3 separate regions of the Homo sapiens genome follow, and regions 1 and 3 are each linked to region 2. The links come from fine-mapping of genetic effects on gene expression. A gene starts in region 2. Each other region holds a variant in brackets. All regions are shown on one strand. Distances are between the middles of the regions. Region 1 has its middle 59 kb from the start of PROK2. Region 2 holds the start of PROK2 (prokineticin 2). Region 3 has its middle 20 kb from the start of PROK2.

The links.
Region 1: its variant is fine-mapped to the expression of PROK2 in whole blood (TOPMed, PIP above 0.99).
Region 3: its variant is fine-mapped to the expression of PROK2 in whole blood (TOPMed, PIP above 0.99). The same link has a PIP of 0.9 or more in blood mononuclear cells, monocytes, monocytes after LPS, neutrophils and spleen.

The regions. Positions count from the first base shown.
Region 1 is chr3:71,840,066-71,848,266 of GRCh38, forward strand. No RefSeq gene overlaps it. Among named protein-coding and RNA genes, the nearest start is that of PROK2, 59 kb to the left of the region's middle. The variant A/G (reference allele first, on the strand shown) is at 3,275.
Region 2 is chr3:71,780,325-71,788,497 of GRCh38, forward strand. It overlaps PROK2 (prokineticin 2), which reads right to left and starts at 4,824. Exons shown (of 4, transcript NM_001126128.2): 1 at 4,633-4,824; 2 at 1,143-1,268. The coding sequence starts at 4,728. LOC105377156 (a long non-coding RNA gene) reads left to right here and starts at 5,066. Exons shown (of 4, transcript NR_199161.1): 1 at 5,066-5,199; 2 at 5,312-5,423; 3 at 5,613-5,709; 4 at 5,893-6,103.
Region 3 is chr3:71,800,563-71,808,738 of GRCh38, forward strand. No RefSeq gene overlaps it. Among named protein-coding and RNA genes, the nearest start is that of PROK2, 20 kb to the left of the region's middle. The variant C/T (reference allele first, on the strand shown) is at 4,874.

The DNA of each region.
Region 1 (8,201 bases), 60 kb after region 2:
GGTTGCGGGGCAATGTGTTGGGTACTGCACAACAGAGTGAAGGGCTGTTGTGCAGTGGAGTGGAGTGTTTTTCACTCCTCAGAGTGGAGAATACTCAAGGATCAAAGAGGTCAACATTACCTTTCCAGAAAGGGGGAAAATCACTTTTCAGTTCTGAAAGACCCACAAATGAACATGCTTATATCCTCTCTGTAATGGGTTGAATTGTGTCCCCTGTTAAAGAAAACCAGGGCTGGCCAGAAGTTAAAGCAGTGAAAGTAAACTGTATTCAAAAAGAAACTGTTACAATAGGGGAGAAAAGACCTCAGTATAGAACTTGGAATGCAATAATTTTGAATACAGCATGAAAAAGTGGGAATTTATGGCCAAGGAGCAGGGTGGAGGGGTTCAATGGATAGAAAATTACTAAGAGGAGACAGTAGGAGTAAGAGGGGTCTCTGGCTAAACTGACTTGATAGGACTCTTGCTGAAGGGAGGTCAAGGTGATCAGATACCAAGAGTGGGGGATGAGGCATTGGATCTGAGGGGGAAGTTGAATAGTTGCCAAGGTTGAGGATTCTTGCTAAGCTGACTTACCAGGATTGTTGCTAAGACTGGATTTTAATGGAAGAATACAAGGTTTAGGCCTAGCTTTTTGGTTTTTTTTTTGGTTGTTGTTGTTGTTGTTTGCTTTTGGCCAGGCTCTCAGAGGAGCCTGGCCAAAGGTTATTTAGAAAAAGTCTTTGTCAACCCCCAAAATCCCCATGTTGAAGCCCTAATGTCAAGTACTTCAGAATGTTCCTATATTTGGAAATAGGCCCTTTAAAGAGTTAATTAAGGTTAAATGAGGACATATGGGTGGGCCTGAATACTTTCGGAGATAAGCCCTTCAAAGTACGGCAGGCCTAATCCAATCTGACTAGTATCCTTTTATAAGAAAAAGAAATTTGGACACAAAAAGAGACACCAGACACGCATGTGTACAGAGGGAAGACCACGTGAGGACGCAGTGTTAAAGGAAAAACTTGGGCCGAATGAAATTTAAAGGAGTTTAATTGAGCAATGAACGATTGGTAAATCAGCCAGCCCCCGGAATCACAGCAGATTCAGAGACTTCAGGAGTGCCTCACGGTCAGAACAATTTACGGATGAAAAAAGAAAAGTGACGTACAGAAATCAGAAGTGAGGTACAGAAACAGCTGGATTGGTTACAGCTCAGTGTTTGCCTTATTTGAGCACAGTTGGAACACTCGGCAGTGTATGAGTAGTTGAAGTGTGGCTGCTGGGATTGGCCAAGACTCAGCGATCGTTCCAGGCGCATACTCCTAAGTTAGGGTTTCGATCTTGTCTACCTATTAAGTTAGGCTTCAGTTCGCCCACAAGGACTCAAATATAGAAGTACGGAGTCCTTCTCAGGCCATATTTAGTTCGCTTTAACAGCAGTAAGAAGGTGGCCATCTGCAAGCCAAGGAGAGAGGCCTCAGAAGGAAACCAAACCTGCGGGCACCTTGATCTTGGACAGCTTCCAGAACCATGAGAAACTTCTGTTGTTTAAGCCACACAGTCTGTGGTATTTTCTTATAACAGCCTTAGCAAACCAATACACTCTCTGAAGATCAATTTATTTTTATTTTTTAACATGGGGTCTCACTATGTTGCCCAGGCTGATCTTGAACTCCTAATCTCAGTCTATCCTCCTGCCTCAGCCTCCCAAGTAGCTGGGACTACAGGTGCCTGCCACCATGCCTGGTGTGATGATCAATCTTAATGAGCATCTTTAAGTAGAAGACAGAAGTAAACTGCTTAAGACAGAAAAAGGAAAAAATTGGAAAATATTCAGTTTATTAATTTAGGTAATAGAGACCTTTAAAAATATCAAGTGAACTCTATTGGACTAAATTTCTTTGGAAGTATGTCCCCAGCTATACTTCCTGATCCTGTGGGGGTTTTTTGTGGGTTAGGGGGGTAAGCCCTTCATCTTAAAAGATCTTTTATTACTGAAGTCCTTTTCTTAAGGGACCACAAGAAAAGACAAATCTTTATTATAACCCCATTGAACTACGTAATCTAAATAGCTCCTAGGGGAGGAAAAAAACCTTCTTAGAACACATGCCCTTTCATTTCAAAATGATAGCTCCAGGAGCATTTCCTTCATAAACCATGAAATGTCCAACGACAGAACAAACCTATTAAATTAGACTCATTTCTAATTAAATTCAAACCAGAGATATGCTAGAAGTGAAGCCGTCCGCACGGTTGTGTCAGGTTTATCATCAACCATGGAAGTAACTAGTAACTAGATGAGTCACTTTTCCTCTCTGTGTCAATTTCCTCATCTTGAGAATGAGAATCAGAATGCATTTCCTCACCAATATTTGGTAAGGATTAAAGCGGTGTAAATTGTTGTGAAATATTTAGGATAACAATGGGCTAGATAAGTGTAAGGCAGTGTACACTCAGCATTTTAAAAATTGGTTTTGTGTAGGCCAGGCATAGTGGCTCATGCCTGTAATCCCAGCACTTTGGGAGGCCGAGGTGGGTGGATCACTTGAGGTCAGGAATCTGAGACCAGCCAGGCCAAATGGCGAAACCCCATCTCTATTAAAAATACAAAAATTAGTCTGGTGTGGTGGCGCATGCCTGTAATCCCAGCTACTCGGGAGGCTGAGGCAGGAGAATCACTTGAGCCCAGGATACAGAAGTTGCAGTGAGCCAAGATTGATCATGCCACTGCACTCCAGCCTGGGCAACAGGTTTCATGAAGTTCTAAAAAAACCTTTGGAAACATACCAGAAAAAAAAAAAAGCCTTCTTGAAGTTCTAAAAAAAAAAAAACCTTTGGAAATATACTAGAACTATCCTTAAGTGGATCCTATAAGGCACATACAAATTAGCTTTCTTTTGTTATTGCTGTTTTGCGACAGGGTCTCACTCTATTGTCCAGGCTTAAGTGCAGTGGCACGATCTTGGCTCACTGCAGCCTCAACCTCCCAGGCTCGGGTGATTCTCTCCCTTCAGCCTCTTGAGTAGCTGGGACTACAAGTGCGTTCCCCCACACCTGTCTAATTTTTAAATCTTTTGTAGACACAGAGTCTGGAGAGGTTAGCCAGGCTGGTCTTGACCTTTAATGCTCAAGCAATCTGCCTGGCTCAGTCTCCTAAAGTGCTGAGATTACAGACATAAGCCACCGTGCCCAGCCAGTTTTCGTAAATAAATTGCCTAACCTCTTACTGAAGTAACAATATTACTACACAAAATAATGACAAGAAAATTACGTAAACACAGAAGTTTTCCAT[A/G]TATCACGTGTGCTGTTCTTCCACAATTTTCTCAAAGGCATAGATTCACCTCCAAATTTCTGAGCAACTGTTTTGAAAGCTTTCCGCAATGAAGCCTCCAAAACCAAACCCCTTTGTCACTCTCATTCATAACAGCATCCCCGACACCACCTTAAGTGTACCTTCCCAGATCCTTCAGCAATGTCTGAGCCTCTCTTCTCTGAGAAACTCAGCCTCTGTGGGATTCAGTGATCATGTGCATGGAAATGGTGGCCAAAGCTATATCCCACTTGTCGTCTGTGTCGAAGCTGCCAAACTTAAAATGCGTGTATGTGTGCTTGTGTGTGTGTTTTCCATCTTCTCCTCTCTACTCACCCTGTCTTAGTGTCTTAGCCAGGCATGGTAGCTCTCAGTGGTGGTCCCAGCTACTTGGGAGGCTGAGGTGGGAGGATCGCTTGAGCCTGGGAGGTTGAGGCTGCAGTGAACTATGATCGTGCCACTGCACTCCAGCCTGGGTGACAGAGTGAGACCTCATTTCAAACAAAGCAAAACAAAAACAAAAAGAAGAAGAAATGTAAAAACGAAGACTCAATCCCACTGGGGACCTCTGGGAGATGCTACAGAACACGACTCATGAAGATGAGGGGTATTTTCCACCAACTCCTATCAATTATTGGTGAATCAATGCCATGAGCATTGTTCATATTCTTTGCTTTGTTTCAATTCCTCTCTCTCCTTCCCTCCTTTCCTCTGTTCTCTCACAAAGCCAGTGGGTTCTTGTCCCTCTAATGAATGTGTCTCAGCTGCACGTTTCCTTTTTTCCTTCCACGTCTACTCATAAGCCCCTTGGACAGAGTTCTGCAGATCCTCTGAGCTGGAAGCTCTGTCTCCAGTCTCACTCCTGATCCCAGCCTGGCTAATACTCTGGTTTCTCTTCAGATTGCGTATTTTTTTCCCCTTTTACCAACCTAGCTATGCTCTATTGCTCAAATACCATTGACAGAAAGTTTTTTCTCCTACTCAAATGGGGGCACTGTTGTTTATTATATTAAAGCCTAACTATTTGGCCCAATCTTTCCTTTTTTCTCAAACCTAACCCCAGAAAATGAAATTTACATGGTGTCTTTTGGGTGACCTGTATCATCTCCTTGACCTCTGCTTCTTTCTGGCCATATCCTGCCATTCTCTTATTCAGTCTCTGCATTTCAACCATCCTTGCTTTCTTTCAATTCCTAGAACTGCTATGCTCCTTCCCACCCCAGGGCCTTAGTACATGCTGTTCCCTCCTTGTCTGTAATACTCTCTGCTCTTCATCTACTAACTCCTTCTCCTCCTTCTCTTTGCTTAGTTAAGCCTTTCCTAAGTGATCCCCTGCCCACCATTCAGCCCTCATTTTCTGTCCCCAACAGGTCAGGTTGCCTTGTTACATACTCTTATCATGTGTGTATTTCATATCACTTCTCATGATTGCAGTTAATTAATTGCATAGTTACTTCAAATATCTGGTGCTCCCAGCAGTCTGAAAATTACGTGAGTGCCTGTGTTGTTCACTGCTGTGTCTCTAACACCTAGCATGATGCTTGGTGTATTGCAAGTTCTTGTTGTATATAGAAGAATGAATATGTGCAATGCACACTATCTAGCTCTGAAGGCTTTGCCTTTCTCCTCCTGTGATGCCCACCACCTTCCTCATTTAGATGAAACACTTTGTAGATAACTATGCTCAATAAACCTGATGGATGTTTATTGATGGATCCCTGGGCCAGCAGTTTGAGAGACCACTTATAAATACAAAGGTGCACAAAATCATTCTTGTTCTTTGTCTATAACCAAAAAATCATATTGTGTATCAATTGCAAATGAACTATAATGAAACAATAATATTCTTAGGGACTTGATAACAATGTTGACTGTTGGAGACTCTTGAAAAAAATAAGATGATTTTGGGAACTTGTTAAAGCTTGTGTTTACTCTCAAATTTAAGGGAGAATGCATATGGCACTAATAGAAGTTAGACAATAGAGTGATGACTTAATGTTTTGGAAATTTAGGGGACAGGTGTGACAGCCTATTGTGTCTCAGAACAAGCAATTTGAACAAAGACATAAAGTATACAAATGGGAAGAGAATTTGATTTCACTTAATTTTATTTGGTAGAACTTAACACTTGAACAACTGCTGTTTGCTAGACTTTAAGAGTTTTAAAATTCCCCTTTCTCCCTAATGGATCCTGAAGAGAAATGTATCCATTTGTTTCATGGCAAATGTTCAATTGCAGATTTGAGGGATAATAAAAGCTCTTACCTTACTATTTAATTATTCAGTTGACTGCTAGAAAGATTAAGCTACCTAAATGGGTTTGTAACTCAGAAATGACAATATATGCTTATTTTAAAAGATAGCCATGTAATTCCAAGACAAACTAGTGGCAATCTAGATTTTTATTATGACAGTAGCAATTTGGAAATTATGCCAAAAGTTCAAAAAAATTGGCAGTCATAAGTTTGCTTTTTTACTTGATAGTCTTGAATATGCTTTCTGTGACAAGTATTATATTCCTGAAACTTCTACACTGAACACCCAGAGTGAATAATTGCATAAAATGTAACAATGAGATATTTATAAATATAATATTTTTCTATTCAACGATTACATTTTTCTATAAGAAGAGTTTGATGTATATTTAATGCTAGACCTACTTTAAAATATGTACACATTACTAAAGGGAAAATGCATTAAAAGAAACCACTGTATTATCAATTTCTGGTAAAGCTTAAAAATGTTGTCATTAATTATAGATGGAGCACTTTTCCTGTGATATATTCCTATTTGTTTGACACCTGGCAGGGCCTGCACCAATTTATTCACTTTCTCTGTTACACAGCATTCAATCCCTGGGGCCATTATTTCTGAGGGAAACCAAGTAACATAACCAGAAGCCTCCATGAATGATTCATACTAGAACACTCTAGAACATGCTGCCCAATGGGATATGCTGACTGACTAATCCAAATTGATGGCTGGAGCTTCTGTGGTGTCACAAGGAAGTGATCCACTTACCAGATCCTCGAGATTAGCTAAACCCTTTCAGCAGCTGCTGAGCCTCATAGGTCTCCCCTTGTCCGCACGTATTATCTGCAACGTTATCGGGATAGAGCATTTCCTAAACAAACGCACGCGCATAAACACTGTAAAATAGCTGCTTGTCTCTGGCACCTCCGAGACACTTAGTAGCGTCTTTATCTCTTTTATATTGAATAACCTCTTCACTAGTATAGAAGCAGTGCATTTATATTTATAGAAAATTAGGAAACACAAACAAAAACTTCACCTTACCATCACCCAGAATCACCATATGTTAGATCTTCGTCCATATGCTTCCGAATCTTTATGTATTTGTACATATATTTGTATTTATATACACACATATTAGTATGTATTCTGCTTTACCAGTGTGAGATGACACTCCACTTACTGTCTTAAAACTTACATTTTCAGCCAATGATCTTTACCTTTCCACTTCAGTACTTTTTTTTTGAGACAGGGTCTCACTCTGCCGCCCAGGCTGGAGTACGGTAGCGCAAACACTGCTCACTGCAGCCTCTACCTCCTGGGCTCAGGTGATCCTCCCACCTCAGTGTCTTGGGTAACTAGGACTACAACTACTGTCACACTGGGCTAATTTTGTTGTTGTTGTTGTTGTTGTATTTTTTGTAGAGACAGGGCATCACTATGTTGCCCAGGCTGGTCTTGAATTCCTGGGCTCAAGTGATCTGTCCACCTCAGCCGAGCCACTGTGTCTGGCCCACTCAGTATATTTTTATGTCATTGAATAGCTAAACCATATTCAAATTTCACCAATTAAGCTAAAAAGACCTTTATAACTGGCTTGTCCTCTCCAGAAATCCTCTCAAGAATCAAATCTGGCTGATATAGTCCTTATTTCTACCCAGTCTATCCTGATTTCCTTTTTGATGACATTGGCTTGTTGAGGACACTGGACTGGTTTTCCTGTGGAATATCTCACCTTCTAGATTTGTCTGATTGCTTCCTTACTGTGCCATGTAGCTGATTCCTGTACCCCTCCATCTCCTGCAAATGATAGGTTAGATCTAAAGGACTGATGGATTCAAGACAAGCATTTTTGGCTAGAATATACCATAAGGGATTCTGTATCTAGAACTACACTACTCAGTGTGGTAGCTACCAGCCACATGTACCCATTTAAATTTAAGCTTAAATAAATTAAAATGAAAAATTCAGTTCCTCAGTTGTATTAGCCACATTTCAAGTGCTCAATAGCCCCATGTGGCTAGTGGCTACCACTTAGACAGGGCAGATATGAAATATTTCTTTCATTGAAGAAAATTCTACTAGACATACTAACTAGAGAATGAGTCCATTTCTCCATCTCTTGAATCTGGGCATCACTATGCAACTTTGTTCAGCCAATAGGATACTAATAAACATCATGCAATCAGAGGCTCGGAAAATGCTTGTGTACCAGGGCTTTCCCTCTTTTGCTATTGAAACCTCGAGACCACCACGTGAAGGAGCTCAGGCCAGCCTACTGGAGGATGAGACACCACATGGAGCATGGCCCCAGCTAGTCCAGATGAGTTCCCAGAGATGTGAGTCAAGCCATCCTAGATCATCTCAACAGACCATGTGAAGGGAGGCCTCAGCCATCCAGCCATCTCTGCTAACTGCCAGACATTTGAGTGAGGTCATCTGGGATCCATCAGCCCCAGCTGGGCCACCAGCTGTCCGTAGAGACCAATAAATTTGGCCCAGACAGAAGAACCAACCAGCTGACCCACAGAGTAATAAAGAATAAGAAATGATTATTGTTTTTAGCCACTAGATTCTTTGAATGATTTGTTACTCAGCAATAAATAACTGACACATGATCAGAAAGGAATTTATATAATGTTACTTTGGTCCTATG
Region 2 (8,173 bases):
ATTCTGTTCACTCCGAGGAGGTGAAAATATTAACTGTTCTCTGGGACTGTGGAGTATGGGAATGATGTTTGGCTGTGTTACATTTTTAAACCCTAAATCACATGTGAAAAAATAAGACAGAAAATGGAATTTGGTTTGCTCTGATAACATTCTACTTGTATCTAAAAGAAAGTATACAATGTGTAGAAAGAACATTCTAAAGAGACTGAGCTCTGCCTCTCGAAAACCACCTGCCCTAGGACTTGTTGCAACGCCACTGGAGGCACTTTACCAATGGGAAAAATGCGGAGGTGGGACCAGAGGAAGGCAATGCAACCTGGCATTCCTGGGGTGCTCTGTTGAGACCACACTGTGTTTCAAAGGTTTTCAACCAGAAGGCCAAGAACCTCCAGCTCCACATGCCTTCTGCCTCCCACCCACCCGCTTCCTCATGTAATATAAACCTTCCTGACCCCTGTAGACAGGTGGGTCTGCAACCCTTGGAGATACAATCTCTCAAACCCTGTCCAATCCTGCCACCCTATGATCATGCCACTACTGTTAATAACTTTTCAAAAGTGTTATTTAGGTCACTGTGATATTGAGCTGACAGATAATAAAGCAAATTGGAAAATTAAATATCATCGATCTCTAAAATTTTGAAAAATGTGTCCTGTAGGTAGAGTCAAAATATAGAATATTTAAACTAACATACAAGAGTAATTGTATAATCGATTTTCTAAAAAATCCCAAAACACAGAGCTTCCTTACTTCTGCCTTATCAGTAGATCTAATATTAAAAGCAGTCTTTTTAAGAACTTCTATACTCAGATTTCTGCAAAGATGCATACTAGAGTATAATATATATTTTTGTTCTAAATAACTTTTAAGCAAATTCATGTGTTGCAAATTATATTGGTAAAATGCTTCTAACACCATGAGAGCAGTAACATGAAAACTATCACTGGAATAAGAAAGACAGAGGATACAATTCTTTGAAATGAAAGGGGAGAGGAGAGGGGGTAGTTTTACACTGTTATCCTTGCTAATGTCCAATATTCATTTTGTTTGTCGAGCACGTTACCCAGTCCTTCATGTCATACAGACCCTGCTCAGAGTTACCACAGTAGAACCACCATGAATACAAATATATATATACTAACTTTACGAGTCAGTGGATGGCAGCTGTCTCCCAGTTTGCCCATAGGTGTGCAAATCCTTATGCTCTTGACCCAGATACTGACAGCACAGCACATGCCTCCACCACATTGGGAGTCCTTGTCACAAGCCTGAAATGTAATAAACAAACAGATAAATATAGATAACAGGAAAGACTCAGGCTAAGGAAACCTAAAATTAGCAGTGAAATGCCCTTTAAATATCTAAACACTTGGACTTTAATAATCAGGTATATTTTTTAAATGATAACCTTCATTTACTTGTATATAGCTATTATAAAATCTGATCAGAATAGCTATTTCTCATTTTTCGAAAGTGGGCTAAATTCTAGCCCCTGGATTATGAAAATCTTAAATAAACATAAGATTTTTTTTTAAATGAAATCAGCTCTCTTTTTCCAGTGCTTTATGGCTGAATTGGCTTTGAACTTGAAGAACAAGACTATATTACTCTTATACTACACATGGCCATTAGGAACTACATAAATGGAATCACAAGATTTTGTGACTATTAACTGCAGAATACACTGGGGCCAATTTAAAAAAAGAGATTTAAATAGTCTCTAAATCTGGCATGAAACACTCCAGACCCATAAAGGCACTGATGTAAATTTCAGAAGTGCTCATTTTCCCCTTCAAATATTTGCATTTTGGTTCAAGAGACTTGACGTTTCTCACACCACTGACTTGCTTTTTCACCATTTTCTCTTTAAAGAAGTCTCATAGTTTGAAAGTGGACAGACCAAGATGCTTGCCTTATGTTACTCTTCCTTCAGGTGAATAAGCTGCAAAGAGCAAATTACTGGCTTAGCATAAACATATATGTACATTACAAAATCAGCTAACAATCCTGTAAGATCCATCAAATTAAGAAATGCAAGTAACAGGTGCAATTGTCAATAGTAATTACTCAAGTCACCTGCTTTCAATATAAAAGTTGTAAATACATACAATGAAACAATCAACTATGGAGGAATTTCCATACTCTAGTAAATAGAAATAAATAATAAAATCTAAATCTATTTGCATGAAAATGGATCTGAAGAACTATTATTCTTTCCTAGAACCAACAAAAAATAGAATGCTTTGTTTGAACCGTGGGCAGTAATCTGTTTTGGTAGTGATAAGATAAAAACATCCTGTACTATATATGTAAGAAACTAAAACCTCTATCATCTAGGCACAAATTTAAATGTACAATTAGTGGAAACAACTAAAACAGTCCTTCAAAATTCTTAGTTTTGAGGACAGTCATAACTTCTCAAGATATAAAAATATGGGTACATTCTTAACATTATTTCTCATTAAAAGTAACCAACTATTTTGCTTTAAAGTTCATTTACTTCCCTCATTAGAATTTATTTCTCAGTCTATTTAAACAAAGTATCTGGATAAAAGCTAAAAATTTCACCTTGAGGTGTTTGGATTTTATAGGACAATATGTAAATGTTTCAATTTTCCAATTTTTATCTGCATGCCAGAAATCATGTATATGTAGCCATTACATCCCATAAATAAGATGTCTAGTCAATGATCTTTTACAATATAGTTTTAACAAATCTATGTGGGCATATAAATCAATTTCAAAATACCTACATACACTACCCAAAAAACTGTGGATGTCAGGTGAAAGTTTTAGCCAGCATTTTATTTCAACAGATGCTCAATACCTCGAATTTTGAGGCCCCATGAGCTTTTTTTTATGAACCAATCAAAAATCCAGCCAAAATCTTTTAAAATTCAATCACCTGGATGTTTAACATGCTATACACAATGTATCTTGATAAGTTACTGAGTTTTTCATTTGAATCCAGATGGTTCCTGTCATGGAGACATAACTACATTTTATTGCCCTGTTGCTTTAGAGACATTTTTAAAATTCTCTTTTTGTAACACTGAGTTAAAATAACAACAACAAAAACAGCACACATAACTATATAATAAGCCCAGTCTAAGCCTCTCTAACAGATAGACAGCCAATGTGATAAAATTTTATTTTGTAACAAAAGCTTCAGTTCTTGGAAAATTTACAAAGAGTTGCATAGGTTTATATATTTTTAATTAGACAGCTGTTTCCTAATGCCCTTCATCCTTAACCCATTGCAAATCTATTCAGATAGTGTTGTCCTGTGAATGGAACAAAAAGATACTTATATTGCAAAGGGATCTTGGGCTCAGAGGATTAGGAGAAACTTTAAATGAGCCAGCAGGAGAAGAGGGAGAAAAAAATCCAATCATGTTTCAATTCTCATGTATTAGAAAGACCTGCAAAAAGTTTTTCTCAACCACATGGACTGGCAAAGCTATGCAAGTAATTTTTTGAAAAAATCTCTTTTCTAATAAATATCACAGAGCTTACAGTTAAATATCTGTTGGATATATACAAATGCTGTCATAGCAAAAGGACTTTCAAAATTCTATAAACCTAATAACTAATATAGAGAAAATAGAGCTTGATTTTTTCAAGACAAAGATACTTCCTTTAAAGTCAAATGATATTATCTATGTATCAACATTTCAAACATAGACGTTTTATTTAAATCCCATTATGTGCACTTAAATATTTGAAGTAATTTAATGAAGGTGTGAAATAATTCCTCACTTAAAAAACAGTAAAGAAGTTGAACAACCAGGAAATGATAGCAGTTTTGCCTTGTTAATGTAAACTAGACTATTTAGTATTGTACTGCAAACCCAATTTTTTCAGATCCACACAAAATTGTTGAGAGTGGGAGAGAACTGAACTAGTTCCTACTTACAGAAAAGATGAAAACATCGTCTCTAAGTTTAAACATCTACACAGCAACCTACTCCATCATTATGCTGGAGCACTGGAGGTGCTTTGCCAGGAATTAGAAATTTAAAACTTTTATGGGGATACCTCAAGACCCTGAGCGCGGGGGAAAGCCCCGGAACCCAGAAGGAAGCTCCCACAATTGCTTTTCAAAGCGCTCACATGGCCCTGGACCAAGCGATTTCAAAGGGTTTCTGCGGAGGACGCATCGGGGAGCAAACTCTTTGACTGTAGGATTAAGACTCTGGGCACTTGGGGAATTCGTCTTGGTCCTTTGCATTTCAGGAAGGGGCCGTCAAATTTTAAGGTTCGAGGTTGGAGAGCCTCCAAAAGTACTTGAGAAGACTCAGAGAGAAACTTCTTTCAGCCTAACAGAAGAAAAATGCGAGGAGTGAGGCCGTGGGTGATGAGGGAGAAGTAAGCGGGAGAAGGTGGTAATAAAGGTGGTGGGCGACATCCTTGTCACTGTTTCTTCCAGGACGCGCCCAGTGTCCCCAGCCGTCTGCTGCTTTTGGATCTGGGTATTTTCCCAAGTGCACCAAGGGGCGACAGGGGCAGGTGTCCCCGCCCAGGGCGACCCTCCCTTTGCCTCTAGCCTGCCCTTCAGGGTCCCCGTCCCAAGCCCCCTGGGCACATCCCAGGCGCGCATCAGGGGCAGACAGGTGCGCCCGGGCCGCTTACCCCGGTGATCACGGCGGCGTCCCCAGCGCGGGGCGTGAGCAGCAGCGGCGGCAGCAGCAAGAGGAGCAGGAGTGGGGCGCAGCACAGGCTCCTCATGGCGCCCTCGGGACTGGGCGGCCGCCGGAGGCAGTTGGGGGCGCGGGGCCCGGGTGCGCTGGGTGGAGCGCGGAGCGGCGGGCGGACGGGCGCGGCGGCTCCCGCGAGCCTCCGGGCCGTTATAAAGGCTAGCCCCGCCGTGACTCACGCCGGCGCCCGCCCGGCAGCACACGCGGGGGGCACGGCGCGGGCACACACCCCACGCCCCACGCGCACACGCGCGCCCGCCTCGGCCCGGCCGGCTCCCAGACGAGCACGTGCTATGCGCGGCCCCCCGCGCCCCCGCCTCGGGCGCCACGCAGGCAGCGCTCCCGGCGGGGCGCCCCGCTCTGCGCCGTTCCCTCCGCCGTCGCCCAGCCACCGCCTTTCGCACGCGCCGGAACCGCTTTTGTGGTCTCCGAGACACTCATTTGCTGTCCTGGTTTCCAAAGCTCCACGTGCTCAGCGCCGAAAACTTGCAAATCATTTGCTGTACAGATGTTTAGGGGTCGCCTACTACGTGCGGGGCGCTGTGGACACATAGGGGGCGGGGGGTGGGTGAGGGGGACACAGCAGCCCCTGAATCCATTCGTTTGTTCAGCAGGTCTATACTGGGCGCCCGCTGCGTGCCAGGTACTGCCACCGGCTCTCTCCTCACGGTGGAATAACTTAACAGAGAAGACAGACATCAATCAAATACCCTGGAAACGTGGAAGGCAGGGGAAAGAACAAAGGGAGAGCAAAATCGCCCCAATCCCACATCACCCGCGACGTGAAAGGATTTGTCCTTCCAGCTGCGGGACTCCTATTTGTTTATTTCAAGTCAGAGGCCTTCCCTTTATGCCCACATCTGTTCCCGACCCTCTCCTCTGATTTTCCTCACATGTATTTCCTCCCCTCTTCAGCCCCGCGCCAGCTCCAGGCACAGCCGTTCAGGGTGATGCCAAAGGGAAATGAGAACGCCTGGTTTCGAGTGCCAGCCTGAGGCCCCTTAAGCCCTAGGTACGCAGCTCTCTCTTCTTTCTTAAACTTTCCAGCCCAGGAAAATCACCCTTCGGTTTTACAGATGCGATAGGGCGTTATTGTGATTCCTTCATTCACGTAAACATGAATTGAGTGTCTAGTGGGTTCCAGGCACACCAGGAAAGAATAAGTGACAGATTTGCCCTCCATCTCTCATCCTAGCCTGGCTCCAAAAACTGCAGCCTGTTTCCCTCAACAAAAATGACGTCAAGAATACCTAGATGTGACCACACCGAACTTGCTTGCCCGTTTTGGGAAACCCAACTTTCTTCCTGAATAGTCAGAACCTCTGGCTTTCCTGGTCTCTTAAGAACCGCAAACTATTGAAAAGCAGATGCGTCTTTCAGCCTCTTTAATAAATGCAGTAAGGAGAGTTGGGACAGAGTTACTTTCAGACTGTGGGGCTCCCCCGTGCCAAAGCATTCAGACGAAATGTGGGGGATAGCGGGGGGAAGGCAGGCAATTATCTGAATGTTAAACAGCTGAATATTTGGAAACCCCAATCTTTGGCTGATTTTTAAAAACCTTTTTCACACGTGTTCTCATGTTTAAAAAACGCCTTGAACAGAAAACACAAAAGGAGTCAAACCCTTTTTTCAACTTAAAAAAATGTTAAAATTGGACTCACAGTGGAGTAAGTAGAAACAGTAGCAAGTGACAGACTTGTGGAAAGTTTCCTTTTCCAGTCTCCATGCCAACGCTAGCTCGGGAATGCTGCCGGGTAAATGTAAAAACCAGTCAACATGGATTTTAACATTCCTATGACTTTCTTTTAATGGTCTATTTCATATTCGCTACTATTGAATGCCAGCTTGGGTATTCCCTGCTTCTTCAAGCATAGAAAATATGATATGTCTACACAGGAAAAATCAGATTTCAAAAGTGGCTGGCTTCTTACACAGCTGTTTGGAAAACAGTCCTCATAAGGCTGTTTTGAAACAAGTTTAAAAAAAAGAAATAAGTTTGGAAACACTTAAAAATAGGGTTGTTTAGTTTCATGTTCTTTTGGAAATTTTAATTGCTTTAATGCTTTAGGAGAGAAATGAAGGCTCTTGATATGTCATCTTTGTATCTGAGGCCAAGTTTGAAAAATGAAGTCTGACTTCAATTGTTATAAAGGGAAAAATGAAAAAAAAAAAGAGTTTGGATTAGTCCATTAAAAAAGGTAGTTGGGACAACTTAGCAACAATGACATAGAAATGAAACAGTAGTTTATTGATTCTTTTCTATTACTGTAACCTGTTGATATTGCCACATGATCACTTCTGCCCAGGCATAACTGTATTAGGTGAAATGAGCCTTGTGTGTGTAAAGTGTAGCCTACCATATTCCAGCAGACCATCAAGGCTCAGCTTAAACGAAAATGCAATCTAGGAGCGTCTATAGAACCCAATGTTTGTGAGACAGGCTGATCAGGATTGGAATCCTGTGTGACCACTGGGCAAGTTACACAACCTTTTGAAGCCTCTGTTTCCGGTCTTGTAAAATGGTTATAAAATACCAACCTCATGGGGTACAACCCCTATGGAATTTAATAATACCTGCAAAATGCTTATCACAGTGCCTGGAACAGACTGGGAGCTCTGTTAGGGTTACCTCTTATTAAGCCTTATTATTTGGTCTCCCCTGACAATTTCAGCCAATGCTGATATAAGTCTTTTCTGTCCTGCCCACTATATTAGATTGTACACTTTTCATGATTAGGATCCTTGTGTCTAATTTTCTATGCATCCCTCTTGGCACACAGCACGATAATAGGCATATGGCAGGCATTCAGTAAGTGACCAGCAACAGGAATATGTCCCATGAAGGACAGTCCAGAGACAGTTACGAGAAGATCATATACAGTACAGACTCATGTCATGTATATGAATCCGTTAAAGGTAGTCACCAAAAAGCAAGAGAGATGGAAGCTTTACCTGGTGCAGATGATTCAGCCTGTCTCTTTACTTGGGGGCCACGTGACTGAAATGAAGTGAGCTGGGAGACACAGGCCTGTCTCACGGCAGTCAATTTGGGACTCAGGCTGACTGATAAGGCTCCATTTCAACATGTGCTTCATGATTGCCAGTGTAGTGGCCTATACTGTGACCCCTAGCAAGTTATTTTCAAGGCCTAAGCCCTGGTACCTGTGGACGTGACCTTATTTGGAAATAGGGTTTTTGCAGACGTAATCAACTTAAGATGAGGTCATGCTATATTAGGGTGGGTTCTAAATTCAATGGCTGGTGTCTTCATAAGAGAAATGGGAGGGAGAGCTGGATACAGAGACACAGGCTAGACTCCCCCCACCCCACCCCCCCCACACACACGGGAGAACATCAAGTGAAGATGGGGGCAGAGATTGGAGCAATGCTTCTACAAGGCAAGGAACACCAAGGATTGCCAGCAGCCATCAGGATCTGAAAGAGCAAGGAAGGATTCTTCCCCAGATCCTTCACAG
Region 3 (8,176 bases), 20 kb after region 2:
TGATGATTTTCCTACCTTAAAATAATTATATTCTTTAACAGAACCTCTGGAAGAAAAAACATAGTGTGCCTCATTCTTTTTTTTTTTTTTTTTTTTTTTTTTTAAATGGAGTCTCACTCTGTTGCCTAGGCTGGAGTGCAGTGGTGTGATCTCAGCTCACTGCAGCCTCCACCTCCCAGGTTCAAGCAATTCTCTGGCCTCAGCCTCCTAAGTAGCTGGGACTACAGACACACACCACCACACCCTGCTAATTTTTTTGTATTATTAGTAGAGACGGGGTTTCACCATGTTAGTCAGCCTGGTCTCGAACTTTTGACCTCAAGTAATCCATCTTCTACCTCGATCTCCCAAGGTGCTGGTATTGCAGCCTTGAGCCACCGTGCCTAGCCAGGATGCCTCTTTCTATAGACCTATTTTCCCCAAATTTGCATGTAAATCACATTTTTGTAAATGGAATCATATTTTAAGGTCCAGCATAACTCAAAAATTGTGCAGTGAATCATGGAATGATTTTAATTTTAAAGGAGAAAGAAACTTCTGGGCTTTCTTGCATAAGCGTCTCCATTTATAGATGTGGAAATTGTGGATGTATTAGTGGGAAATGTCTTAGCTAAGGTGCATTTATAGTGAATTTGTTCTGTGATTGATATTACTATATATTTTTCTAGTTGCCAATTTTTGTTTTCGATGTTTAATTAAAGGAAGGTAGTAGACCTGTAGAACCAAAAGAAGATTATTTTTTCAGCTTCCTTACAGTTTGGATATAATTTGTCAATAATTATAAAGTTTGTAGATAATTAAAATAATACTTGTTGAGGTGTTTTTTTCCTTGGTTGCTTGATACAATGCGTTTTTTAAAAATAACTAAACCACAAATATAGGAGTAATATAGCTTGCTGTCAATTAAAATTATTTATTTAAATTGACAAGTAAAAAAGGTATATTTCATATACAGCATGTTGTTTTGAAATATGTATACATGCGGAATGGCTAAACTGAGTGAATTACCATATGCATACCTCACATATTTTTGTTTGTTTGTTTTTTGAGATGGAGTTTTGCTCTGTCACCCAGGCTGGAGTGCAGTGGCACAATCTCAGCTCACCACACCCTCTGCCTCCTGGGTTCAAGCGATTCTCCTGCTTCAGCCTCCCGAGTAGCTGGGATCACAGGCATGTGCCACCATGCCCAGCTAATTTTTTGTTTTTGTTTTTGTTTTTGGTAGAGACAGGGTTTCACCATGTTGGCCAGGCTGGTCTCAAACTCCTGACCTCAGGTGATCCACCCACTTTGGTCTCCCAGCGTGCTGGGATTATGGGTGTGAGCCACTGTGCCCAGTCATTGTTATTAACTATAGTCACCATGTTGTACAATAGATCTCTTGAACTTATTTCTCCTGTTTAACCGAAATGTTGTATCGTTTAACCAACATCTCCGTCACTCCCTCATTCCTTCCTCCCATCAAAAAACAAAAAAACAGAAAAACAAAAAAACCCTTCTAGGTTTTAAATATCTTTCTGAGAGAATAAGTTCACAGGCTAAACCAGTGATTTGCAACTGGGGTTGATGTTGTCCCCCAGGGGACATTTGGCAATGTCTGGAGACTTTTTTTGTTTGTCACATCTCGGGGGAGGTGCTACTGTGGGTAGAGGCCAGGATGCTACTAAACACCCCACACTACATAGGACAGCCCCCTACAGCAAAGGAGTAACCACCCCAAACATCCATAGTGCTGAGATTGAAAAGCCCTGGGTTAAATGAACCAGCTTTCTGCAGGTGAAGACTCTCACAGAGATCATAAGCCATGCCCTTTCACTTACTGTGTTGAGTGCTCCTTTATTAGAGTGTCACAATCATCTCTACCTCTATTAAAAAGCTAGTGTGAGAAGCCTCTTCCCTACTTTTGCATTTACCCTCTGCTGCTTCTTCCTGTGAAATTAAACAAGTGCTCTCATCTCTCTAAGGCCAATCCTTCCTCTAAGGCTTGGAGACCAGCTAGGATTAAGTTCAGCTGCATGAAACAGAAAAATCTAACGTCCTCTGGCTTTTTACCACTGGTATTGTATTCCTCACATAAAAGCAATCTGGAGACAGCAGTCCAGGGCTGGTGCCCATGCTCCACGATGCCATCAGAGGCAGGGGCTTCTTCCATCTTCCCACCCAGCCATTCTTGGAATGTTGGTCCTCACACATAGCTCCTGGTGGGGGCACCATGGCTGCTCCATCACCAGCACGGGGCCTATGTCTAGTTGGGGAGTCAGGGGAAGGGGAAAGGTTAGAGTGCTTGCAGGTTGAGAATGTCTGCCTCTTCCCAAATAGGTACTTACAAAATTGCACTTTATTTATTTCCTATGCTGCATTTATTGCATTTGATAATGGCAGATATAATGGTTAATTTTATGTGTCAAGCTGACTGGGAGAAGGGATGCCCAGATAGCTGGTAAAACATTATTATTATTATTATTTAAAGGCAGAGTCTCCCTCTGTCACCCAGGCTGGAGTGCTGTGGTGTGATCTCAGCTCACTGCGACCTCCACCTCCTAGGTTCAAACGATTCTCATCCCTCAGCCTCCTAAGTAGCTGGGATAACAGGCATCAGCCATCATGCCCAGCTACTTTTTTTGTATTTTTAGTAGAGATGGGGTTTCACCATGTTGGCCAGGCTGGTCTCAAACTCCTGACCTCAAGTGACCCACCTGCCTCGGCCTCCCAAAGTGCTAGGATTACAGGCGTGAGTGCCTAGCCCCTGACTATTACCATCTTTTAGGGACCTTGTAGCAGCCACTGCTGATGCTCAGCTCAGAAGCCCTCACATTCCTTTACCATTTCCATGCTCTCCTACTTTGGCTGCATTGTTCTTTTGCTATGTCAGTGGGACCTGCAACAGAACTGCTCTCAGGCTCCCAGAGAGGCCCTGCTCTGCTTGTGCAGAGGGCCAGAAATGCCGGAGTGCTTTTTTCTGCTTGGGGTAGCCAGTAGCCAAGGACCTGCTAACCCAGCAGAATGAAAGCCCAGCTCCTTTATTCTGACTCAGGAAAAACCCTTAGATGCAGTTGACTCTCCAGAGCTCCCTGCAGGATCAGGTGGAGTCTGGCCTTTGGTTTGAGATCGCCACTCTGGTGGGCTTCTTCCTCTTGCTTTGCCGTGTTCCCCTACTCTTACTTTGCCCAGTGTTCCCAGGAGACCCTGCCTTCATAAATCATTTTCACAAAAATCTTTATCTCTGAGTCTGCTTCCGGGGACCAGACTATGCCTTTTTAATTCACCCAGTGCCTAGCATAGCACCTGACACATAGTGGGAGTTTGAAAACTTCTTCAAGACTGGTTGAAAAATGCATAATATTAAACCCAATTAAACAAACAGTCCTGTTGGAAAGACACTTTTGAAGCCAGTCAAATTCAGATGATTCAGTAACAATTAGTAACATAGGTTTGATTCTTTTTATTTTTTTATAAGACAGAGTCTCCCCCTGACGCCCAGGCTGGGGTGCAGTGGAGTGATCTTGGCTCATTACAATCTCCATCTCCTGGGTTCAAGCAATTCTCCTACCTCAGTCTCCTGAGTAGCTGGGATTACAGGCGTGCACCACCATGCCTGGCTAATTTTTTAATATTTTTAGTAGAGACAGGGTTTCACCATGTTGGTCAGCCTCGTCTCAAACTCCTGACCTCAATGATCCACCTGTCTTGGCCTCCCAAAGTGCTGGGATTTACAGGCGCGAGCTGCCGTGCCCAGCCTTACATAGGTTTGATTCTATCTAGCAGAACTCAAATTCAAAATAACCTGGTGAAAGTTGAATACTTAAATTTAAGGTCACAGATCACTACAATATGACAGGGACCAGGCATTTTTAGTGTGTACAATTCTTCTATCAGCTTAGGTTCCTGCTCAGAAATCTGAAAGTCTCGCCCCACTACATGCCACAAACCGTTTTTTTTCCTTTTTTTCTTTTCTTTTCTTTTTTTTTTTTTTGGAGACGCAGTTTCACTCTTGTTGCCCAGGCTAGAGTGCATTGGCATAATCTCGGCTCACTGCAACCTCCATCTCCCAGTTTCAAGCAATTCTCCTGCCTCAGCCTCCCGAGTAGCTGGGATTACAGGTGTGCAGCACCACACCTGGCTGATTTTTGTATTTTTTGTAGAGATGAGGTTTTGCCATGTTGGCCAGGCTGGTCTCGAACTCCTTACCTCAGGTGATTCACCTGCCTTGGCCTCCCAAAGTGCTGGGATTATGGGTGTGAGCCACCAAGCCCAGCCAAACCCTTATTTTTTTTAAGGAGGTTGTGCACACTGGTTCCCCAGAAGCAAAGCATCAGGTAATGTTAACTTCGGTTATTGCAAATGATGGCTGGAGGTCTGGGGAGAGGGATTGATCATACTGGGCACCTGCATCTCCTGTGCAAATCTCTCCTGGGGCCTCAATGCTTACGCAGTTTGCTCCATACACCCTTGGTTTGAGTGGACCCTCCCCTGGCTCACAGGCTGCCTTTCATTGTTCTGGGTGCTCTCAAGCAGTGATGCCACTGTGGGGCATGGTGCCTGACCCCTAGAGCAATGCCTCCTCCAGGCCCCAGAGAGCTCTCCCCTGAAAAGTCAAGGCTTGAAAGAAGGAAGCCTGCCATTGGCTGAGAACTGGAATTATTACAACCCCCAATGCTGGAGGTGGGACTTGCGGGAGGTGATTGGATCATGAGGGCGGGTTTCTCATGAATGGTTTAGTACCATCCCCCCTTGGTACAGTATAGCGAGTGAGTTCTCACAAGATCTGGTTGTTTAAAGCTGTGTGGCACCTCCCCCATTTCTCTCTTCCTCCTGGGGTGGCCATGTAACATGTGCCTGCTTCCCCTTCACATTCTGCCATGATTGTACATTT[C/T]CTGAGGCCACCCCAAAAGCAGAAGCCAGTATGCTTCCTGTAAAGCCTGAGGAATCATGAACCAATTAAACCTCTTTTCTTTATAAATTACCCAGTCTCAGGTATTTCTTTATAGTAGTGCAAGAACAGACTAATACACCCATTCTTGACTTTGGAGTTAGATTAGACTTCTGAAGTTCAAATCTCGACTCTGCTACATTCAAGCTGTGTAACTTTGGGCAATTCACTCAATCCCTCTCAGCCACAGTTTCCTATTTCTCGAATGTAGTTTCCATGAGGGACTGGGTCTTGGTCTTTTCCTGCTGTTGCTATATTCCCAGTGACAAGACAGTGCCTGAAGTATGGTAGGGGCTTCATAAGTATTTTCTGAGGAAATAAATAAGGGTATTTGTGAAGGCTGATGGAAATGATGGGTAGTATCTGGCACAAAGCAATCACTTAATAGTATCTGAGTGACTATCTGGCACAAAGCCAGATCTGGCACAAAGCAATCACTCAATAAATGCTAGCTATAAATATATAAAATATACATATGAAGATGTAATTTTATTTTATTTCTTATATCTGGTAACATAGTTTCTAACCACAATGTAATGTGTTAGAATTCATCCTCTCTCATGCCTGTAATCCCAGCACTTTGTGAAGCTGAGGCGGAAGGACTGTTTGAGCCCAGAAGTCGGAGACTGCAGTAAGCTGTCATCATGCCACAGCACTCTTGCCTGGGCAACAGAGTGAGATCCTTTTTCTAAAAACTAACAAAACAAAACAATTATTTCCAAAAATTTAAAACTTAAAAAAAATTAAAAATTGAGAAGTTTTTTAAAATATGAAAAAAGAGGCATCTCCATATTTTCTGAGAGCAATAGTACATTGGTGAACACTGATTGCCCCGCATCCATTCACTTGTGTCTTTCTTCCTAACACAACTCCGATTCTGACCAAGTATAGCTTAGAAGAATGTGACCCGAGACTCTAGAAGTAAATCTTTTTTTTTTTTTTTGAGACAGAGTTTCACTCTGTCGCCAGGCTGGAGTGCAGCGGCACAATCTCGGCTCACTGCAACCTCTGCCTCCCCGGTTCAAGCAATTCTCCTGCCTCAGCCTCCCAAGTAGCTGGGACTATAGGCACCCACCACCATGCCCGGCTAATTTTTTGTATTTTTAGTGAGACGGGGTTTCACCATGTTGGCCAGGATGGTCTCGATGTCCTGACCTCGTGATCTGCCCACCTCGGCCTCCCAAAGTGCTGAGATTACAGGCGTGAGCCACCGCGCCAGGCCAGGAGTGAATCTTAAGGAGGCTATTGGCATGTGCCATTCCCCCATCACCTGCCTGCATGACTCATTGGTCCTGTGACTAGGACTGGTTCAATCAAAATGAAGGAAACATTTATATTACACACTTGGAGATGTGGTTTTTCCATTTTTGACCAGGTAGTTGAGAACAAAGAAGTATGTAGCTCCAGTTGCCACTGACAACTGTCTTGTTATTATGAGGCACTTGGAAATGAGGCTTACAACATCATGAGAAAGACGGAGAGAGTCAGTTATCTGACGACATCTTTCAGCTACTGATGGTGCCACTCCTTCCAGTTAGGTAAGATAATACATTTCCTTACTGTCTTATTTTTTATTTATTTATTTTTGAGACAAGGTCTTGCTCTGTTGCCCAGGCTGGAGTGCAGTCGTGTGATCTGGGCTCACTGCAGCCTTGACCTCCCAGGATCAAGTGATCCTCCCACCTTAGCCTCCTGAGTAGCTGGGACTACAGACGTGTGCCACCACGTCTGGCTAATTTTTGAAGTGTTTTATAGAGATGGGGTTTCACCATGTTGCCCATGCTGGTCTCAAACTCCTGGCCTCAAGCAACCCTCCCTCCTCGGCCTCCAAAAGTGCTGGGATTATAGGCATGAGCCACTGAGCCCAGCCATTTCATTATTATTATTATTATTATTATTATTATTATTATTATTATTATTATTAAGACAGGGTCTCATTTTGTTGCCTAGGCTAGAGTGTAGTGGCAGCAAGAGGGCTCACTGAAGCCTCAACCTCCCAGGCTGAAATAAGCCTCCTGTCTCAGCCCCTCATGTAGCTGGGACTACAGGCATGCGCCACTACACCTGGCTAATTTTTGTACTTTTTTAACAGATAGGATTTCACTATGTTGCCTAGGCTGGTCTCCAACTCCTGAATTGAAGCCACCCACCTGCCTCGGTCTCCCAAAGTACTGTGATTATAGGCTTGAGCCACCATGCCCAGCCACCTTATTTTTTATGTCATTTAGGATGGGTTTTTCCAAGCCTTACAGCCAGAAATATACTACCTAGTGGGCTGCAAAATTATGTAGGAGATGAAACTAAAAATGTCTTCTTCGAATAATAATAGTAATGGTAGCCAATGCCTTCTTCAGCACAGTGTCAAAACATATGCCAAGCCCTTCAGCTATATTAGCTATTTACTCTCTCAACAATCCTATGAGGTGGAGACTATTATTTACTTCATGTTTCACATGAGGAAACCAGGTATATGTCAAGTTACATACATACACACACACTAAACCCAAAACAGGTCAGTGGAAGAGCTGGGATTTGAACATAAAGGTCTAGTTTTGGAACCAGACTTATACCTACCCATGAAACCTAACCATTTCCATCAATAGATGAATGGATAAAGAAACTGTGGTATGTATACACAATGGAATACTAAGCAGACACAAAAAAGAATGAAGTCATGTCTTCCATAGCAACATGGATGGAACTGGAGACCATCAGCTTAAGTGAAACCACTCAGAAATAGAGAGATAAATACCACATGTTTTCGCTTATAAGTGGGAACTAAATAATGTGTACACATGGGCACAGAGTACGCAAAGACAGACATGGAAGACTTGGAAGGATGGGGTATGGAAAGAAGTGTATGATGAGAAATTTCTTAACGGGCGTAATGTACATAATTTGGGTTGATGGATACCCTAGAAGCCCTGACTTCACCACTACAAAATCTATACAAGTAACAAAATTATACTTGTACTCCATAAATTTTTACAAACAAACAACAAACCCCTACCCATTAAACTATACTTTAAAGTATTTACTTCTATGAAGATTCATAGTGAGAAAGAAAAAAATGGAATGTAATATGCTTCAGTTTTTTAAAAAGTATACTAAAGCTTTCATAGACAAAAATTGAACACTTGCAAAATTTTCTTGCTTGTGTACCTTTTCCAGGGAATTTGTCTCCTTTTGAAAACATGTATTCGTTTATCCAATCAAATATTTATTGGACACTACGTGTCAGGCATT